Regions from separate parts of the Homo sapiens genome. Here region 1 is linked to region 2. Evidence: fine-mapped QTL for protein levels in blood plasma. A gene starts in region 2. The other region holds a variant in brackets. All regions are shown on one strand. Distances are between the middles of the regions.

Region 1 (11,454 bases), 62 kb before region 2:
GAGTGAGTGGAAGTGTGGAGTTGGGAGATGTGGAAACGATACAAACAAGAATAGACAACATTTTTTGAAAAATTTGATTTGCCTGTTAAGGGATGAATAGAGATGAAGAGGCAGCTGGAAGAAATATGAAGTGGAATGAGAAAATTTAGTTTGTTTTTAATAGGAAAAGCTTGAAGATTTTTAAAAGCAAAGGCAAGGGTGAGACATTAAAAAGCATGTGAGAGAAGGGGTAATCAAGTGCACAAAGTTCTTGAGAATGAAGAAGGGATGGGAGCCAAAGCAGTCATGGGGACTGGCCTGGCTGGGAGGCGGACAACCCCTCTGATGTAATAGGAAAGATGGAATTGGTGCAGATACTGGCATTGTTCTCTTCTTTGGGATCCAAATCCTCAACCACTGCAGTCTGAATTAATCCAACAGTGTCTCCCATTTAATCTATTCTATATATTGCATTTAGACTTAGCTCTGTTAAATACTGCAGATATATGAAAAAATACTCAACATCACTAATCATCAGGGAAATCCAAATCAAAACCGCAATGAAGTATCATCTCATCTGAGTCAGAAAGGTTCTTATCAAAAAGACAAAAAATAACAATGCTGGCAAACATGCAGAGTAAGGGAACTCTTATACACTGTTGGTGAGAATGTAAGTTACAACAGCCATTATGGAAAACAGTATGGAGGTTTCTCAGAAACCTAAAAATAGAACTACCATACAACCCACCCATCCCACTACTGGGTATTTATCCAAAGGAAAGGAAATTAATATATCAAAGGATACCTGCACTGTCATGTTGACTGAAGCACTATTCACAATAGCCAAGATACAGAATCAACCTAAGTGTCCATCAGTGGATGAATGGATAAAGAAAATGTGGTATGTATACACACAATGGAGTACTATTCAGCCACAGAAAGAAATCCTGTCATTTGCAGCAACATGGATGGAAGTGAAGGTCATCATGCTATGTGAAATAAGCCAGGCACGGAAAGACAAATACCACGTGTTCTCACTCATACGCGAGAGCTAAAAAAGTGGATCTCACCGAGGTAGAGTAGAATGATGGCTAACAGTGGCTGGGAAGGGGAAAGGGGTAAAGAGAGATTGGTTAATGGGTACAAACATACACTTAGATAGAAGGAATAAGTTCTAGTGTTCAGTACCACAGTAGGGTGACCATAGGGAACAACAATTTATTGTACATTTCAAAATAGCTAGAAGAAAAGATCTGAGGCATTCCCGACACAAAGAAAAGGAATGTTACAAGCTCACACCTGTAATCCCAGCACTCTGGGAGGCTGAGGCAGGAGGATCTCTTGAGGGTAGGAGTTTGAGACATGCCTCGGCAGCATAGAGAGACCCCCATCTTTACAAAAATTTTTTTTAAATCAGCAGGGCATGGTGGTGTGTGTCTGTAGTCCCAGTTACTTGGAAGGCTGAGGTGGGAGGATTGCTTGAGGCCAGGAGTTCGAGGCTGCAGTGAACTATGGTCGTGCCACTGCCCTCCAGCCCGGGCAACAGAGCAAGACGCTGTCTCTAAAAAAAAAAAAAGTTCAAGGTAACAGATATCCTAATTACCCTGATTTGATCATTACACACTGTATGCATGTATCAAAATATACCATGCCCTCCATAAATATGTACAATTCATATGTATCAATCAAAAATTTATAAAAACCACTGCTTTCTAGTATATGTCAGGGATTTTTTTTTTTTAAGAGACTGAAAGTCTCCCTAACCAGGCTCAAACTCTTTGCCTGGCTTCAGTGTTACCCACTATGTACTCACTCAAGGTGTCCCTGTACTCATTAGTCAGTCACGTCCCTTCAGGAGATGATTTTAAAAAATTATTTTCAGTCCTGCCTCTAGGGTTTGCTCACTTACCAGCCTTAGCCTACAGCACTGCCCTGCTTTCCTCCTCTCTTCCTTCTAAGTTCAGTTCCAATTCCATTTATAAAGACTCAGCCCCCACCATCTGCTCTAGTTCCAGTGATATTTTTCCTCTTATGAATTTCTACTCAATATTTTTATAATTCTCTAACTGTCCTATATGTTAGTTTTTCTTCCCCAACCAGACTAAAAAGCTCTAATTGAGGAGAGTCTTAGTATTTTGCTCCTTTTGCACAGGAAGAGCTTCTGTTATGTGTCTTCCTTTCTCCTAAATTCTGTGCCATTTCTAGTTTCCTTATTTCTACTCCCATATACAAAAATAATAACAGTTATTCAACAGGAAACATGTTTCCTGGCCTCCATATATTTAAAGGAGGGCCTGCCTTATGTTTTTTAGATGGATTTTTGGGGCAACAGCAGTGCAATTTTTGATTTTAAAAAATAAAACTACTAGACACCGTTAAGTATGTTACATACTCCAATCCTCGCAACTATCCAGTGAGACAGGACCTGTAATTTTACTCTCACATTTTATAGTTCAGGAAGCCAAAGATTAGAGAGGAGATCATACATCATTAAGTCACACAATCAGTAAGCCACTGATGTAGGTTTGAACCCTGGCCTGTGACTCCTGATCCTGTGCTGGTGGCCACAATGCTAAACAACTTCAAGAAGACTGCTTGATAATGACTTCTACTTTGTAGAAACCCAGAAATTTACAAAAACAATTAACTCGAGGGGCCTTTAAAACATGCGATTAATATATACTTTAATGTCTCTTTATTCTGCTTTTTAAAATCATGTTATAAGGCTATCTTTGGCAACCAGTTACACCAAAGAAGCCAATTCTTACACTGCACAATGAGATCTGCCTGTCAAAGGTGTTTTGTTCCTTCAATGTGTTAGGTCATGATTTCCCCTGACAGCTTGTGAAATAAAGGGAAAAACATTTTTAAAAATTTGATACAAAGAATTAAATCAGTCTGTCCCATAAGTAAGGACTAAAGTGCTTTTCAACCTATGTTAAGCAGACTGTTCCAACTGAGGTACTACTGTGAATTTTTAGATGTTCAAACTATCGCTCATGAATACTCTTGCCTTTTTGTGAGCAAAAGTAGTGCTGTGGCTATGGAGGAAAACTAAATTATTCACAATTGAGCCTATTCCTATAGCTTTGCTGATATTCTACTCTAACCAAAAATTTATCAAATGCCTGGTTCCATAAAGACAGCAGAAGATAATTACACTATCACAGAATAATTTACTATATTTCCCAGGACATGCTAACTATATTATATATAAGACCAGAGTTCCATTTTTCTCCCCTCCCATAATGTAAGAGGTATCAGTGAGAGAAAGGGAGAAAACCCCTCACAGAGTACTTATCCAGAAATACAACCAACAGTCTGTTTTCTAGGACACATGAAAATGTTCACTATGAAACCCAAGTGAGGATTAGGAGTGACATATCAAAACACTACTTTCATACAGAATAATATGGAATGTTTTCCTAATTTAATTTCTGATTTATATAGTAAACAGATTATACTCATATTAAAACATTAAAAATATGATAGTTAACTTTAACTTTCCCTTACTTTCTATTTCCATTTCTTCATCTTGCTACCTACCACCTTTTAGATGAAAGAAGCAATATTCTAATTTTACCATAACCATGTTCACAATACCAAACCATTAAAATAATCATTTTATTTCAAAAACTTTTTGGCACTTTGAGAGAAGGAAACATAGCAGTAGTTAAGCAACAGGAAGCAACTCTACCCATTAACTGAAAGAATATATAACATATGCTTAAATTTAGCTGGTCTGACACATTCCAACCAACCTCAGTTGATGAACATAAGCTGCTGAAGTGGTGCAACTGAAATTTGCTATCTGTTTGCAACAAAAGGTGAAGCTCTGGCAAATAATATGCAATAATTTATTGGAAGACTACACTGGCAAGTCTCACTGAATATCTCAGTTTTATTTTGCCATACTCTTCTGATGACCCTAAGTCATACAGGTTTTTTGTTTTCTATTGAAAAGGTTCCCTTCTTTTACCTGGTATAATGAAGGTAAGCAGCACATTTATCCTGGTATCTACAAATAAATGAAAAAGGAAGCATGTTGTTACTATAGCACACACTTAAGACAGCCTGCCAATGTGTCAGTCAAAGCATTGTCAAAGTTGGAACAGAACCTCCAAAGGCTTACCAAGAAAAATGGAGATAAAAATGAAAAAAAAAGTAGTAAATCAATTTATCAGAGAAAGTATTTCATTGAATACTGACTTCCATCATGAAGACGACTACAAAGACTACGATAATACGATGAGGAGAAGGTAGAAGAACCCATACAATGAAACAAGCATGATTCTGCCTGCATCATACGTATCTCTTTTAATTCCTGCAACAACTCTTTGAGCTAGATACCACTATTACCCCATTTTACAGTTAAGAAATCAGAGGCACAGAGTTTAAGTAACTTGATAAAAGCCGTGCTCCAAGGAGGCAGTAAAGGTAGGATTCAAATCCAAGGTCTCTGGCTACAGATTCCATGTTCTTAACTATTATACTCTCTCTAGGTCGAGGGAGGCATCCATGCTTTTCATATCCTTAACTAGAATTTCTAGGGAACTTCTAGCTAAATAAATTGATAGTTATCTTTGTAGACTATTTAAATGCTAAAACAAATATATTCCTTAGAATCACTGTTAATTTCAATACATTTATTTCAATAAAAATTTCCTTTATTTTCAAACCAATAAAATACTACTAACTAGAATTCATAATAAAGCAGCTCAGGAAAGGCTACTGTAATAGAAGTAAAAACTTACTATGACGCCCACTAGGGTAGGTGAATATTAAGATGTAATAAATTGTAATATGCAGGAAATGATATACTCATCTCATGTGACTTGACTGCTACAGATAAAAATGAAATACTTTATTTTCAGCTAGTCACTTTGGCACATAGGACCATTAAACTGAGCTACCGTGCTTGCTATTGTGATTTTGCAAAAACACAAAATGGTCTTCAAAAATCTGTTGTCTGCCACTGACAATATGAAGTAAATAAAATAAGGTTTTCAAATTGACACCAAAGAGGAGTTGGCCACCCTTTCCACTGCCTAAGGCATGTTAGTATTCCTGAAAGGCATCCTCAATTTTGGTCACATGCAGATCTCACTAAGATCATTATTTTCAACAAATTTCTTGCACATCTACTTCAGGGTATGCTTACTGGTAGGGTTCCTGGAAGTTAAAAGGCAGTGATGACCTCAAGAAGCATAAAATCTGTTTTTCATAAACATACCAGTGGCTCTTAACCTTTTTAGGGTCACAAAGATCTTAGACCCTCCTAGGCGGGGAAAAAAAGTAAAAACAATTTAATGTTGGTAGAGTTTTTTTTGTAAAGCCATCTGGCTGTGAGTATCAAAATCTTTAAAAGCATTCATTCCTCCTGACTGCAAAATTTCAGACCTGTGAATATATTCTAGGGACACAATTCTAATTACAGAAGAGACATTATGCAGAAATGCTCACTGCAGCCTGTATACTAGCCAATCTACTAGAAACAAACAAAATGCCCTTAATGAGAACAGTTAGAAAAATTATGCTAACTGAACTTAACACAACTGAATAGTATATAATTATAAAACGTTCAAAAAATAATTTTTGTAGAAAATCTTTATATATAATATTAGTTTGAAGAAGTAGAATATACACATTGAATATACATACTGTTTACACCACATCACCTCAAATATGCAAAAATAATAATGGGGCATAGAAATGACTAGAAGAAGAGAGAGTAAAAGCAGTTTTCTCTGGTGATGAGCTTTTGGGTGTTAATTTTTCTCATCTCTTGGTTTTCCTTATT[C/A]CCTACATTGAGCACTGCTTGTACAAATTTTCAAAAAATTGTTAAGCTTCCTGTTAAATTTGTTTTTAAAACTATTTATTCAGAAAAAAATTGACCTGCTAGAAAACATTTTATATAACTTGAATATTTTTTCCATAAGGAAGCTCTTTATCATAGTAAGCTATAAAATTTGTTGGCTGCCAAAGGGGTCATTTTACATAATTTAAGGAACAAACAGAAAACACATGACTAGCACAGCTGAAAAGAGGCTCATAGAAACAATATTTATGGCCACAAAATGACTAGGCTGAAAGTTCACACACGGCATAGCTAGCAATGTTTTTCACTTGAGAACACAACCAAACTTGGGGTAGCATTTAAAAAACAGAAACAAAAACCCTAGCTTAAGCGATTTTTTTTAAAAGGTGCAAAAAACACAGAATGCAGTGAAATCAATTATTAATCACTCAATTATCCATCACTTAAAAGCAATGAGAATCATGCTGCATGACCTCCGCCAACATGAGACATTCATGAGATAGAAGTTCAAGTCCTACACAGCACTCTATGTGAAGAGGCACACATCCTTATAAAAAAGAAGGAGGCCAGGAGTGTTGGCTCAGGCCTGTAATCCCAACACTTTGGGAGGCCGAAGTGGGTGGATCATGAGGTCAGGAGATCGAGACCATCTTGGCTAACACGGTGAAACCCCGTCTCTACTAAAAATAAAAAAAATTAGCCAGGTGTGGTCGTGGGTGCCTGTAGTCCCAGCTACTGGGGAGGCTGAGGCAGGAGAATGGCGTGAACCTGGGAGGCGGAGCTTGCAGTGAGCCAAGATCGAGTCACTGCACTCCAGCCTGGGCGACAGAGCGAGACACTGTCTCAAAACAAAAACAAAAACAAACAAACAAAAAAGAAGGAAACAAATGCTCTACCTTACACTTTGCTCTTTAGTGATCTCTCCTACTTACCTGCTCCCAGGTTCAATCTTCCTCAAGATACTTCTTTAAATGGAGTTACATTTTAAAATTTTTAAATTAAATTAAAAATTAAGGTTAAATTAACAGTTTTTCTCTCCAAAGTGGTAGATATACATGGTAAATTGGAAGCAAGGAATTAAAAGGAATGGTTGGACTAATTTTTAGGTTATTTTTCCTTATTAGATTGGCTTTTAACCACATATTAAAGCATATTTGACAAATGCATAATTTTAAGGCATTTCATTTCCAGTTTAGAAAAATTATTAACCAAAGAAAATTATGTTGCTGGGTACTGAGTTTCAACATACTCAGAAATGATTTATTTTTTAAAAACTATAGAACAAACATATTTAAAGTATTTCGAGGTCTTCCAATAAAAATGAAGACCAGAAATACTCCCAAAGGAAGAAGAGAACAAATAGTGCATTTGTAACATAGCCTCACCTCATTTAAATGGAAAAATCAGGCATTTCTTATGCTGAGAGCACATAATCCCATATACAAGGGACCAGGTACACCAGAGGCAGGAGGAGGTGGACGTGTTTCTCTACACCAGGGAGTGATAGCACACACAGCCCTTCTGCCTCCAAGTTCACACAGAAGACAGACAGTTGGGACAGTCAGCCAGCAAGCTGAGAGTGAGTAATTTTCTCCACCAGAAAATCACGGGATGAAGGATGTATGCTGAGTGTCAAAGAGGACGCTTTAACAAAGAAGGGGTTGAAATTGAGGAGATCCTAAGCATGGATTAATATGAAGACTTTCTCTTGCATTGACCTCTTTGAGAACCTTCTCAAGAATGGCTGTAAAGACAAGCAGAGTAAAATGTTGAGGACTGGAGATGCTAAACGCCTGATGTTTAAAAAAAACAGCAAGTTACTGCATAAAAATATTTTGGTTTATCCGATGTAATATAAGGCACGGAGTTAAAAGCTGGTACAACTGGGTTAAAAAAGACTTTGAGTTTATGGTGAATGACATAAGAGCAAATGCCTCTAAATATATATATTCTTCAATGGGAAAAATAAGAAAAGAATAGCCAATAGGGAAAAAGTCTTTATCAAGAAAATTTGTTTTGAAGAAATTATAGCAAATTTACTGGAGATGTGGTGGACACTGTGATCAGCGATCAGTTCTACCCCAGAAGCCCTTTCAGGATTAAAAAACTTATTCCCCTGGCTGCAGAGAGTGCCAGCAGAAGAGGGTCCCCATCCAAGATCAAGCCTCCTTCCAGGGGCAGTCTGCACACAGCGATGGGTCAATGCAGAGGTAAAAAGGCCAGTCCTCTTGCTCCAAATTGGAAGGACTTTGAACAACTACCCTAGCTCCAGAGCTCTCTGTGGGGTTGGTTCAGGACTTGGTAGAGAACCACTTCATAGCTCAGCTTCACTGAGTGGTTGTGGTTGCATCTCCTCCCTTCCAAAGGTATTGATCCCCAGAGATCAATTCTGTTAGATCTGTCAGGTATCTCTAACAACATAAGGCATCCAAATCTCAATCTCAGAGTGCGCTTCCTGGGTAACCCAACCTGTGGCAAAGATAAAACTTGTGTTTTCCTTAGAAAGTAGCTCATTAAGCAGAGTACATATATTTAAGTCAGTTTCCTCATTTACAAAATTGGAATATTAATATATGAGCACAATAAGGTTCCTGCAAGGATTAAATGAGGCACTACATAAAATACTTTGAGTGCCTGGCAATGCTAAATATGCAATAAATGCTAGGCCATTATTAAATAATGTTTTAAATCCTGTTTTAAAAAACAGGATTACTGTTTAAAATCTTCTGAAGAACTGTAAGGAAGATATTGAGGATAATGATAGCCTATGAAAAGTTACTGTTCATGCCAGTAGCTTCTAAGCTCCCTATACCATCTTCCTGCAAATTCTTGATTTTTCTTTTTACTTCCCAGTCAACCCTTTTCCCATTTCCTTAAACATTTCTCCCTGTGCCCAGTAATTCTGTAATTACATTATAACAAAATTATAAAAATGTCTAAGAAGGAAAAAAGAGGGGAGGGAGGATTGAGAGATATGACCCAAAGTAAAACAGATTTCACATATTCCAGCAGTCCTGAGGCTGACTAGGGCAGGAGATCATGGATTGGTTATTTTAAAAATACAAACCTACAATCTGACAAAATTCTATCTCCAGGATTCTAATTCAGAAGATCTTGGGGAAGTGGGCACAGATATAATTATAATTATTATTATTATTATTATTATTATTATTATTTTTTGAGACAGAGTCTCGCTCTGTCGTCCAGGCTAGAGTGCAGTGGCACAATTTCGGCTCACTGCAAGCTCCGCCTCCCGGGTTCACACCATTCTCCTGCCTCAGCCTCCCGAGTAGCTGGGACTACAGGCGCGCGCCACCACGCCTGGCTAATTTTTTTTTTAATTTTTAGTAGAGACGGGGTTTCACCGTGTTAGCCAGGATGGTCTGGATCTCCTGACCTCGTGATCCGCCCGCCTCGGCCTCCCAAAGTGCTGGGATTACAGGCGTGAGCCACCGCGCCCGGCCAATATTTGCATTTTTAAAAACTCCCCAGGGACAGAAAGAATTGCAAAGAAATCTTAAACTTCGTTCAGAATTTTATTGTAATTCAAAACTATATATGTATATATGAATCAAATAAATATATTGCAAGTTTTAAGTGTGATATACAAATATAATTTTTAAAATTAATGTTAAATTTAAATTACAAATACTAACATGAACTCATGATTAAGAGAAATACACATATTTCCTTGCACTGTCCACTGAAAAGGTCAAGAAGCAAAGATACAAGTACAATAGGTATGCCTAACACTTAGAGCTTGATTTATACATACCATCCTTCACTAAAAAGAACTGAGGTTCCTTGAAGAAATGGTTGATTTGGGGTCTGAGGCAGGAAATTGGAAGGTGAGCAAATTTAGTTGTGTCAGAAAGAAAAGTAGCCCTGAAAAAATAATGGGAAAAATTCGATATGGTGAGATCTACTCGAAACGTGGTAAAGGGGAAGGATTACAAATTACCCTAACTTTTTAGAAGAAACTGTAGTCGACCCACAGTTGATAAAGAAATGCTCACCTTTACAGAAGAAGGCCAGCTAATCAATGTAGATGTAACAACAGAGTCTGATGGAACAATAGATTCTGGTAGGGACAAAAGGATGGTTTCCTTTAGGTGAAATGTTAGCAACAGGATATTCACATAGTACCAAACTACCATCCAGACACGTTTGTTATTTACAAAAAAAAAGAGATCTGCTACTTACCACCATGAACAAATGATTAAATACAATTACCAGCGATGAAACAACCTGACGTCATTTGCCACCTGATGTAATGCAATATGAAGTACACACATCAATGAAGAAGTATTTTTATCAATAATGTTTTACCTAAACTCAAATCAAGCCAAGACTTATACAGATAGGTCTATGTATATACACACAGAGGGAGAGAAAGGCAGAGAGAGAAACCAAATTTGTTAAAATATTAACAGCTATTGAATTTAGGAGGTACTTGTATGAATGTTCATTGTACTAGTCTTTCAGCTTTTTGTATATGGGAAGAAAATTTTAGTTATAAAAAGCTTGAGAAAAATAACATTAAAAATGTTCTTTAGGTGATTTTAGTGATCATTCAGCTTGACAAATTTTGGACTGCGGGGGGTGGGGGTCTCATTTATGGAAAAGAGTTAAGTTTATTCCAAGAGTGAAGGAATTCCTAAAGAAAATATGCATAACAAAATGCATTGTGCAGTTCTTTTTCATTTAGTAACATTACTGAATAGTTATGCTACCATTACAGAGTTTTTATATAAGAGCTAGTATGATTTGCTTCTCTTAGATCAAAGTGAAATACAGGTATAACTCAGGTTATATCTTGCTATATAAAAATCTTGCTAATTAAAAAAACTCTATCACTTAATTTATTCACCATATGTATTGAATCATTAATATAGGTTAGAAAAAGGCAGGATATGGTGTGAAAAAGGGAGGGGAAGTTTATTGCATTTAAAAGGCAATGAATGGAGTCCTATGCAGAATAGACTGTGTGATCTGACTTTTTGATGACTACAGTGTGTATCAATGGTTATAATTCTTGCACTCACTTATCAGGCAGCTTTTGAAGGGCTCATCTTTTGTTAAAAAGATTGCTGGTCCTTAGGAAGCTCCATCTAAGTACAAGTGTTTCCTAGAATTAATGTAGAGAAGTGCTGAGGCTAGGATGAAATTTTTTTTTAGGATTCTTATTGTGAAAAAAAATTATCCTATTATTGGCAAAAATGATCCATTGGCAGAAACTAGCAGTCTAACCTCTAACCTTAGCAGTCTAACCTTAGTAGTCATTTTATTTAAAACATCTAACCTTAATAGTCATTTTATTTAAAACATCTAACCTTAGTAGTCATTTTATTTAAAACATCGTTGCAGGTCAATGGTAGAAAGAATTGAGCTCAGCTGTAAAGTGGGAGTCACAAATCCCATTGTACAGCCAATGCCTTCCATTAATTAGCTATATAATCGCAGGTAAATAGCAATTAACTCATTGATAAAATGGGGATAATAATAAGTGTCCAATATCAGTCACAGAACTGTCAAGAAGATCAAATGAGATCATGTGTAGGAGAACACTTTATACAAAAGTTCCATCTAAATGTAATCGATTAAGGAAGGGCAGGCATAAAGTTTCTAAAGAAGTGTTTAGAATGGCTAAATCTTCA
Region 2 (10,848 bases):
TTCAAGACAAAAAGTGGCACAGGGTGAATGGAGCCACAGGTACAAGCTTGCTGGAGTAGAGGCAGAACCCATACCTGGTAAACTGGATCGTTCAGGCTATTTAAAGGGATCCAAAAAAGTCCATGTGTAGATCAGCATTAAAGAGAAGCAGAGATCTCACCATGGGTGGAATATATGCAATAGTCATCGAAGTAAAAGAACCACAAGGGGGAGGAGAAACTCAGGAGTCAGAATCCTCCCTACAGGATTTGTCCTTCTAGCACTGTACCTTAAAAGCTCCTAGGTTAGTCTTTATTAAAGGAAGGCAATAATCCCTTATTTATGCTCTTATTATTTATAAGCTACACTTTAAATTGCTTGTATTACTATTTACCTGGGAAGCCAATAAAAGGGTCTTTCTTGCTCTTCTGATACCTAAGCATTCCTCTTAATGTTAATTATGTTAAGTCTTTAAAATCTACCTTTTGTTTTTGACAAATGACAGAAATTACACTGGATCCACTGAGAAACTTTATCAAGTACACTGAAACAAACAAAAAATCAAGATATCATCACCTTCTTTATCATCACCATATAGTACTGAAATGGGCATTATGGCCCATCCTTTGTTTGCACTAATAAAATATTCCACGAGTTGGCAAGTGATGCTGATGTTCCGCCACCTCTTTAAAAGATCATCAGAAGGGCGGGACATTCTGAACCTAGCTAGTTTTGTCAGTTTTTCGTCAGTTTCTCTACCAGAAAATAGGGGGTTAAACATTTCTAGCTACATGTAAAAAGCCATTTGATGACTTAAAACAAATATCCTCAATTGCAATATTCAGTTATCCTTTGTCAATAAGTCATATTGAGAGCAAAATTATAAAAAGATCACCATCACTCCATGAGCTGAGAAGCTTAAAACCGCAAATGTACTGAAAAGGAAAACTGATACTTTTTATTACCATCAATTTAGATGACTTAGATGGGAATCTATCCCAGATATTACAAAGGGATTCCACTGCTGTAGAGACTTCAAATACTAAAACTTCCAGATTACATCTAATCTCATGATATAGGCGAAGAGCTGATAATGGGATCTCCTCCTAGGATTCTTACTCTTGAAAGGACGCCACAAGCCTTTTTGCCCAACTTCTTGATGCTAACTTTCCAGAAGGAAAGTTAAATAAACATGACATAGAAGCGATGCTCATCACACTTGCAAAAAGCACTTTACAACAGAGAGAGCGACTCGACTCCTCCTGCAGCCCCGCCGCCTCGGCGGTCGTGAGCCCCTCATACCCTCTCCTACCCCCACTGGCAGCCGGCCCAGTTGGCTGTCCCAGCGGGGAGGAGGAAGCAGGTGGTGCAACGGTTCATCCGGGGGGAAGCAGGTCAGGGTCGGGGGCGAGGCCGGTGCGCGCCGCCCGCTGCCGGGTCAGGGAAGCCGCAGTGCCCGCGGTCCCTTCCCCGCGCGGCGCGGCTCCGGGTAACTAATGTTCCGAGGCGCCTGACTAAACCCTCCAAATCCAAGGAATGTCAGCGCTAACACTCGCGCCCTGGGCGGCAGACAAATGCGTCCCAGCGGAGCCGCCGCGAGCTCCGCGCCGCCGCTCCCCTCGGCGTCGGCCTGAGCTAGCCGGCAGCCGGCGCGGGGCGGCCGGGCGCCGACACAAGTTAGTTTTCCGGCCCAAGCAGCCCTGCCGCAGCCAAGGAAGAGGAACTGCTCCTCTTCCCCCGGATAGCGCCCGAGCACTGCCACAGCAGGGGCTTCCCCAGGCGCTGAGGGCTGGGGGCGGCGGGCAGGCGGGGCGGGGACGCCCCTCCGCCATCTCCGGCCAACCGCCCCTCCCTCGCCCAGGGACGCGAGGGGGACCGGCGGTCCGGGCGAGGCCTCGGCCGCGCATCGCACCCCGGCTCCCCGCCGCCGGAGTTGAGGGGGAGGCGCGCTCTCCGTAAGAGCCGGAGGCGGGGCGCCATCGCCCTCCCACTCCCCGGCGGGCGGGCCGGGGGAGCCCGGGGCTGCGAACACCCCCAGACGGGCGGCTGCGGGAGGGGAGGCTGGACCAAGGGGCCTGGTCCACCGGACCAGCGGTGGCGGCATCGGCATCTCGCCTCCTTCAGGCCTGCACGCGCCACAGGCCGCAGCCTGGACCAACCCCGCGTCCCCGGGCCGTGAGCGCTGCGGTCCCGGCCCCCCAGAGCGGGACGCCGGGCGGCCGCAGCCCCCCGGACCCGGCTCTCCGCCCGCTCCGCCCGCAGTCCCGGCGCGGAGAGCGGCCGCCCGAGCCGCTGCCGCGGCAGCGCGGGTGTCGGCGACGGAGCCCGGGGCGGGGAAGAGCGGAGGAAGGGGCGGCGAGGGGGCGGGCCGGCGGCGGCCAGGGAGGTCGGAGTGCGCGGGGCTCGGCACCCCCTCGGCCCGCGCTGCGCCAGCACCACCTGCGGAGCTGCGGTGCCCACGCCGTGCCGCGACCCCGCCGCCCCTGCTCCCTCCACACGCGGGCAAACAAAACAAGTTGCCGGTCGCTGCCGCCGGAGGGGGCCGGGCGGGTCACTCACCCTCATCCTGCTCAGCGGGCTTGGGTCGTCCGGCCGCGGGGTCAGGGAAGACCAGAGGACCACTAGCCCCAGGAAGCTTCCCACCACCAGCAAACTGCGTAAGATGAACCCAATCTTCAGCCTCATCTTCCTCCGGCGGCGAGAGACTCACAGCCCGGCGCAGCCGCCGCCACCGCTCTCCCCTCCCTCCTTCCCCCTCCTCCGGCTCTCCTCCCCCTCTTTCCCCCACCCCTACCGCTACGGCTGCCGCCCTCTCCGCTGCCTGCCCTTTCCAGCTCCAGATCCGGAACTCCCCTCGGCTACACCTTTCCCCGGGCTCTTCCCTCCGCTCCTCCCCGTGGCCCCCTCCCCTCTGGCGGCCACCGCAGAGCTCCGACTGACCCGTGTGCCTCGCTCTGCCAGGCTGCCTTCCTCTCTACCTGCCCCCTTCCAGATCCGCAGTCCCCTGCTCTCCACGCGAGCCCCCTTCACAGTCCCTGCTACCTTGTAACTAACTTGCACTTTTCCCGAGTCCGGTTCTTAGCCTTTGCCCTGCAGCTCAGCTCCTTAAAGCTTTCAGATCCCCAAACTTTTATTGTAATTATGGACAATAACTCCGTCCTTAACGCCTGTGCCCTCCGGGATCCCGTGGCCCGCCGCCCCCTCCGTTGGACCTGGAGTCGCTCTCGTCTGCACCTCTCCCTTAGACCCACTTCCCTGAGCCCCTTGTCGAGAGGCTTTCAGGAAGCCAACCAGGAAGTGGGACTACCGCTGCTGCTGCAGCAGCTCCACGTGGCTGATTTATAGCTGAAGGGTTTTTTTTTTTCCTTCTTATTGATTGTTCTTGCTTTTTCACACGGCTCCTTAAGGTGGTGAATTTGTAACCGAAAGGCCCAGGTGAGATGTGCAAATATCACTGGATTGGAGGAGCTCACTTGGAAAGCCAGTATTCCTCCTGAGCTAATGAAAAGAAAGGCTGTCGTCTTATGCCAAAAGCAATACCAACCTTGTTCACGGGCTGGTAAGTTTCAAATCCAAGGACCACGGATTTCAACTCCACCCTCATTGCGTCCCTCAGATCTGATATTTGCCACTTGATTTCTGCTTTTCAAACGCCTTTTCTGCCTGTGTTACCTAAATTACACAGTAAAGGATATTGGCAAGTGTTTAGCCAAATGCCCCACCCTGAGGAAATAATTTTTCTGCCCATATCTCCCAATAAAGATGTCTATGCCTTTATAGCAGAATGTATGTAATTACATTATCAGTGTACTATATCCTAAACTGCTAATTTAAATTTAAGTCGAACAAAACGTTTTAAGATTTTATCCTAAGTTTTTTGGGGTTTTTTTTCTTTTCTTTTTTTTTTTTTTTTTTTTTTTTTTTTTTTTTTTTTTTTGAGACGGAGTCTCTCACTCTGTCACCCAGGCTGGAGTAGAGTGCAGTGGTGCGATCTTGGCTCACCTCAACCTCCACCTCTCGGGTTCAAGCAATTCTCCTGCCTCAGCCTCCCCCGTAGCTGGGACTACAAGTGCACACCGCCACGCCCAGCTAATTTTTTTTTTTTTTGTATTTTAGTAGAGACGAGGTTTCACGGTGTTGCCCAGGCTGGTCTCGAACTCCTGAGCTCAGGCAATCTGCCTCGTACTCCCAAAGTGCTAGGATTACAGCTGTGAGCCACCACACCTAGGCTATCCTAAGTTTTAAGATGGTAACAGCTGATTCTTTTTTCTCGTACTGTCTCACATCTGCAAGTTTTTTGCTTTAAAACAAAGCTCAGTTATGTAAAGTTTTACAGTGAAACAATTTCAATTATCAAGATAGATAAAGAATTATACCAAACTACCTTCATGTGCTTTTTGGCTTGGCTTACAATAGCTAGTATATCAGGGAGTTCTGTAGATGCCATAATTTCAAAATTTCCACAAAATATCTGAAGTGATATCCTCATGAACAGCATGGTTCCGGAAATGTAGAATGGATTGTAGTTAGGTGTATTATTGGTTGGCTGAAGGACTGTACATCATATTGTATAAAAGTCCACTATATAGAGTACCTGGAAGAGGGACTGTCAAGTGTTAAACACAAATCACTGCTTGACTTAGCATTTATATCAGCCCCTTAGGTTAAAACCAGTTGTTTTAAGTAGAAGATGAGAGATTTTGCCTAAGACCATTTTTTTTGTGTGACAGAGATCTAGAGTGTGTAATTCACGAAGTATGAATCTGCTGGGTAATGTGATATGAAAAGCGAATGCACCATTTCTTGGTGATGATTCAGGTCAGCGTTGGGACCCAGGAATCTCCTGTTAATCAGTACCCTGGTGATTTTGATCCAGGTAATCTGGGCACCACCTTTGGAGAAACACTGAAAGGAAGCAAGGTTGCGGGGGGTGGTTGGGAAAAGTCTTATATGGATATCTTTGGAAGACAGAAATAGGCTCATTTATGGACTCAACTTGAACTGTTCAGAAGTGAGGTGGACTCCTTTTCTTTTTTATTTATTTTTTTTTTGAGTTGAGGTCTTGCTCTGTCACCCAGGCTGGAGTGCAGTGGCACATCCATAGCTCACTGCAGCCTGGAACTCCTGGGCTCAAGTGATCTTCCCACCTCAACCTCCCGAGTAGCTAGGACCACATGTGTGAGTCATCATGCCCAGCTAATTTTTTTTTTATTTTTTGTAGAGACGGGGTCTATTATCTGGTCCTGTTGTCAAGGCTGGTCTCAAACTCCTGGCCTCCAGCGATCCTCCCTTTTTGGCCTCCCAAGATGCTGGTATTACAGGCATGAGCCACCATGGTCCACCCGGACTCCTTTTCATAGGAGACAGTTCCCTAGGCAGAGACTGGGCTTGAAACAGGTAACTTACAAGGCATCCTGTGATCATAAGAGAATAATTCCATTTGAAATCAGCAGCTGAAGTCCACCTGAATAATTAAGTCTTTCACTTGTGTTATTTTCACAGGGGAGACAGTTTTTTATTCTTAAGAAGGTAGGAAGCTTTATTTTTACTGTTATGAGCATAGCTGGGCAAGTATGCAAATGGAAAGTGATACCTATCATCAAAGTATTGAGGATGGTCCTTTGAAGGCCCTAGTATTCTGAGAACATCCTGCCACCACTACCACCCCCCAACTTTAGTTTTACACAGAGAACTTAAAATATGTGTGAAAGAGTATATAGTTATACAGTTGTATATTGATGAATAGGTATATAGTTGTAAAAGTTTATGTTTCTCTGAGTCTTAATAACTTTTAAAAGAAACTGCAAGTAAACTAACACAGGAACAGAAAACGAAATATTGCATGTTCTCACTTATAAGTGGGAGCTAAATGATGAGAACACATGGACACATAGAGGGGAACAACACACACTGGGGCCTATTGGAGGGTGGAGGGTGGGAGGAGGGAGAGGATCAGGAAAAATAACTAATGTGGGTACTAGGCTTAATACCTGGGTGATGAAATAATCTGTACAAACCCCCATAACACAAGTTTACCTATGTACCAAACCTGCACATGTACCCCTGAACTTAAAAGTTTAAAAAAAGTGCAAATATACCTTAAAACATATGCCCATTGCAGTATTTGCTGGGAGGCAGCCTTTGTAGGGTTGACAGAACTCGTTTAGAAAATGAGGAGCTACATTCAAAGCTTCAGTCAAGATAAATCACGTACCTCTCTGAACCTAGGGCTTTTATCTGCCAAATAGTGATTACAATACTCAACCTTATGATGTTCTCAAAAGGAATAATTGAGATCAAGTACATATACAAATATAAAGTACAATTAGTGTAATGGAACAAGTCTCAGGTGCGTGTGGCTATAATTCTTGTTTTATGAATGCTGCAGTTCCTCTAAAGAAGAGGGTAGAGACTAGAACTGAATGAGATGGACATAGAGATGGCCAAGAAAAGCATCGTCCTCTGCCAAGTCATGGGGTCATGTGTGGTGGATGGTGACATGGTGTCCTCAGCTCAGAGTCCAGCTGGGGGCTCAGAAGCAAGGTAACTGAAGGGAGAGAATTATTTGAGCACCTAGTGTGTGTAAGATGCTTCACATTTATTATTTCACCTAACCTCTACACAACCTGTTGTGGGTATTACTGGTCTCAAGCTGGGATTCAAAGCAGGTTTTTCCAACCTCAGAATTCTTGCCAGACTGATTAGCCTTCTGCATCTGGAACATAAATGTTTTCAGGCAGCATAATGTGCAAGAGGTCAGAGCCTAAAGCTTTGTTATTTTTTAATTTCTCCACCATGTCAACTCTGTTACAGGGAAGCCCAGCAGAGGGAATTGTATCCATTTTGGGGCTACACTACCCCAATGCTATGCTGCAGCCAAGCTGAACTTCTAAGTTTCTAAATGTAACTCACTTACCTTCAGGCCTTTGTACGGGGAGTTCTTTTTGCCTGAAATACCTTCTGACATCTTAACATTACGCTTAGATGTCAGTTACAAAAAAGCTTTTTCTAGACTCTCTCACATGTCCCACTCCACACCCCTATATCTCTTCCCACCAATGTACTAGGGTAGGTATCCTGCTAGGTACTTCCACTGCACCCTCTACTTTTCTTCCCTAATGATTACCACTATATTGTAATTGCTTAATTTCTTTTTCCTATACCCAGATAAAAATGTGTATGAAGGTGGAGCCTTGTCTATCTAGTTCGTTATTGTTATCCGTGTCTGGTATGTGGAAAGGGCTCAGTGAGTATTTCTTGATGGAATGCTGAATGAATAATGGGATTGAAAATATAAAAGGCAGACAAAACTTAGAAGAGGGGCCAGGTTTACTTCAATTGCTATTCCTCCTCACTGGGAGGTTTTTCTTCCAAGGACAAAACTTTGGAGGTTTTATTAAATTAGAAAAGTGATTATTTTACATATGGTCATCATCATCAATTGATAGGCTGTTGTTTCCCCCTTACTCAGCATCCTACTAAGGCTGCTTAGAACTAAGAAGAAAGGGTAATTTTAATTTAAGTTCATATTTTTGTATGTACGGAGATTTAAAAAAAACAGCTACATTAAAATGGGAATATGTAGCCATAGGGAATTATTTGCAAACAAATTTCAGTATTATCTATGTGTGGTTGCCAAGAACTCAGGTTAAATTAGAGTCAGTGACCTCTAAATGACTAAATATCCTATCACCTATTCTATAAGCCATTTAATCACCTCTTTTCAAAGAAGAAGAGCACAATTGGTAGTATCTTTAAAGGAAGATACATTTTATTGTTTAGAAAATAACTACTATTTAGATATCAAGGGAAGCATAGTGTAAGTTTGTTAAGAATTTATTAATTTTGTGTACTGTTCATTAGTTACCTCTTACTGCTTAACAAATGACTCCAAAGTTTAGCACTTTCAAACAACAAACATTTACTTCACACAGTTCCTGAAGTCAGGAATCTAAGAGTGGCTTAACAAGGTGGTCTGGCTCAGGGTCTCTCATGAGGTTCTTACCAAACTATCAGCTGGGACCACTATCATAACCAACTGGGCCTGGAGAATTTGCTGTCAAGTTCACCCACATGGCCAGCAGGCAGGCCTCAGTTCCTCACTGGCAGGCGGTGGGAGGCTTCAGTTCCTTGTCACCTGGGCTTCTCCACAGGGCTACTCATGACATGCCAAGCTGACTTCCCCCCTTCATGAAAGATCTGAGGGAGAGAGAGCCCAAGGCAGAATCCACAGTCTTGTATAAGAAATAATCTGTATACTGCCTTCATCTGTAAAATGAAGGTGTTGGACCAAATGATCTTTAACATTCTTTCCAATACTGAAATTCTGAGATTTTCCTATGATGCCGATGTGTGATTGAGACTAATTTGTGCTTTCATGTGGAATACTATGAGGTAAAATCCTGCCTTTGTACTTTTTTTCTGACATGGGGTACTATTTCTATCATAAGCTTGAGATGGATAATTCCTGAGTTGTGCTCATCTGGAATAAAGGACTGTTGTCAAGGGCTTCCATTTAATGAGGTTAAGGGTCTCCTACAGTGTTTGGAAAGCAAAAATATTTATGTAAAAGCCCTCAGATTTCACATCGTAGAACACTACCTCTTCATAATTTGGTACTGTTTTTGGACTCCCATAATTCAGAAGTGCTCTTCTGATCTAACCATTTATTTAAGAGGTGATTGAAACGGATTTTGTCTCTTACCACTCTTGTTTAAAACCTCTTCAACAGCTTCCCATTGCTCTTATATTTAAGCCCAAATTCCTCCATTTATTACAAAGCCTTTGTGAGCTTGCCTCTGCTTACCTCTGCAGCCCCATGGCTGGTCAGTTATCCCCTCTTTTGCAACTTAAACTATAGCCATGTTGATTTTCTCTCCATTTCTGAAATAGGCTAACTTCCCTCTCACTTCTAGACCTTGTGTGTGTTATTCTCTCGCTTAGAACACTCTGTGGTTCTTACACCAACCCCTCTCCCATGAACTCCCTGATAATCCTTCAGATTTCAATTTATACATCAGTTCTTTCAGAAACCTCTAATTGTCTTCAGTCCCCGATCCCACTGCTAGGTTAGAAGACCCTCCTTCATGCTCTCAAAGCACCCTGTAAGTTCTCCCTCAGAGCATATAGACCAAGTTTCTTTTCTTTTCTTTTCTTTTCTTTTCTTTTCTTTTTTTTTTTTAGACGTAGTCTTGCTCTGTTGCCAGGCTGGAGTGCAGTGGCCCCATCTCAGCTCACTGCAACCTCTACCTCCCGGGTTCAAGCGATTCTCCTGCCTCAGCCTCCCGAGTAGCTGGGACTATAGGCATGCGCCACCACCCATCTAATTTTTGTATTTTCAGTGGAGATGGTGTTTCACCGTGTTGGCCAGGATGGTCTCAATCTCTTGAACTCATGATCCGCCCGCCTTGGCCTCCCAAAGTGCTGGGATTACAGGCATGAGCCACCGCGCCTGGCCTAGACCAAGTTCCTTAAGGGCAAGGACCATGTTCGAATTTGGCATTGTGTCTCTAGATGTTGACCATGCTTGGCACAGAAGAGATGCTCAGTATTAAGAGACTGAACAAGTGAAAATATATTTCCTGTGTTCACTGTTAAGCGTGGGGAAAAAGGAGTTGCATAAGTAAAAATACTAATTTAAAAGCCCTCAGATTTCACAGTGTGGAACACCACCTCTTCATAATTTGGTACTGTTTTTGGACTTCTATAATTCGGTAGTCTTCTTATTTAAGAAGCATTCTTTAATAGCTCTTAAAATATGATAATATCTAAATGATTTGCAGAAGCATTTTATAGGTAGATGGTTTTGCCTTTATTTGGGTGTTGGGGAAGAAGGGTACAGTATTCTACATTTTACCTGACCAAAAAGAGTACTGTAATTCCTAGATAATAAACTGATAGCTATTTGAAACTGCCTGTTGGCTCACTGAAGGGAAAATGCATTGCCCACAACCTCATATCTTTCATGTGGGAACCCAGTACCTATAAGACAAACTGGCCTCTCTCTGTTACTATTGATAATCTCTTAGAGCATAACTTCTAAATAATGGGTGGAATGGAAAGGAACTCTGTCAGTGAAAGGGCTAGAGAACCTGCCCTGCTATATGCAGATTAAGAGATTTGGCTAGACTCAAATTTCTAATTTCCTTTAAAATGCTCAAATTTCTTAAAACTAGGGTATGAAATGCACTGAAGAAAGACTCAGGTTCTCAGCAGTGTGGTTAGTTAAATGACCTGAAAGTCTTCAAAACTGGTATTTATCAAGGTATTACTGTAAGTCGTCTTACAGTCTGTGCACATAAACCTCTCCACCAGCAAGCAGACTAGTTTCAGACAGTTATCAATCTGTTATCACATCCTTCCAGAGATCCTGATTATCTAGCTATGCCTAGAACCTGACATTCTTTATTGTGGGAACCTATAAGACAAACTAGCCTCTCTCTTGTTAATACTGATTATCTCTTAGAGCATAACTTAGACACAACAGGGGTGGAATAGAAAGAAACTATGTCAGTGAAAAGGCCAGATAACCCATGCTGCCATATGTAAAATGAGAGGTTTGGCTAAACCACATTGGGCATAGCTGGATAAGCAGGATCCCTGGAGGTGTGTGAAGATGTGTGGACAGGAGAAAAAAGTCGGAGAGGAGGGGACATTCCTGTGCTTGACTATCTTCTGAACGTTTTTTGATTAATTTGTATAAAATTGGGTTATTTTAGTAATGGAGTATGTCTTCAAGCCTTTTTAGGCATTTGAGACATAAACAGTTACACACAAATAAAGGAACTGAGGTTCAGACTACAGAGAGATGATGCGAGAGATTCTCCCAAATGATCCAGGAATTAAGAGGCTGGACAGGGACTAGAGATC

Direction of the effects. Positions count from the first base shown, and alleles are read on the strand shown. Strength reflects both the effect of a copy and how common the allele is.
For the plasma level of the protein whose gene starts at base 2,689 in region 2, A is the high allele of the variant in region 1 and C is the other (weak association).

What was found. PIP is the chance, under the fine-mapping model, that this variant and not a neighbour inherited with it causes the effect. Protein levels are from antibody-based Olink assays in UK Biobank. Linkage for the fine-mapping came from a reference panel and not from the study's own genotypes, which makes the PIPs less certain.
Region 1: its variant is fine-mapped to the plasma level of the GALNT7 protein (UK Biobank, PIP above 0.99).

Annotation. Positions count from the first base shown.
Region 1 is chr4:173,222,538-173,233,991 of GRCh38, reverse strand. All of the region lies in intron 1 of GALNT7 (polypeptide N-acetylgalactosaminyltransferase 7), which reads right to left. Among named protein-coding and RNA genes, the nearest start is that of MIR548T, 40 kb to the left of the region's middle. RefSeq lists enhancers at 6,806-7,321, 7,322-7,838. The variant C/A (reference allele first, on the strand shown) is at 5,780.
Region 2 is chr4:173,160,652-173,171,499 of GRCh38, reverse strand. GALNT7 (polypeptide N-acetylgalactosaminyltransferase 7) reads right to left here and starts at 2,689. Exons shown (of 12, transcript NM_017423.3): 1 at 2,539-2,689. The coding sequence starts at 2,664. GALNT7-DT (GALNT7 divergent transcript) reads left to right here and starts at 1,848. Exons shown (of 7, transcript NR_134242.1): 1 at 1,848-2,636; 2 at 3,387-3,538; 3 at 4,710-4,855; 4 at 5,201-5,376; 5 at 6,368-6,522; 6 at 7,147-7,207. RefSeq lists silencers at 1,311-2,540, 2,771-2,890, 2,961-3,010 and enhancers at 3,321-3,420, 5,499-5,578.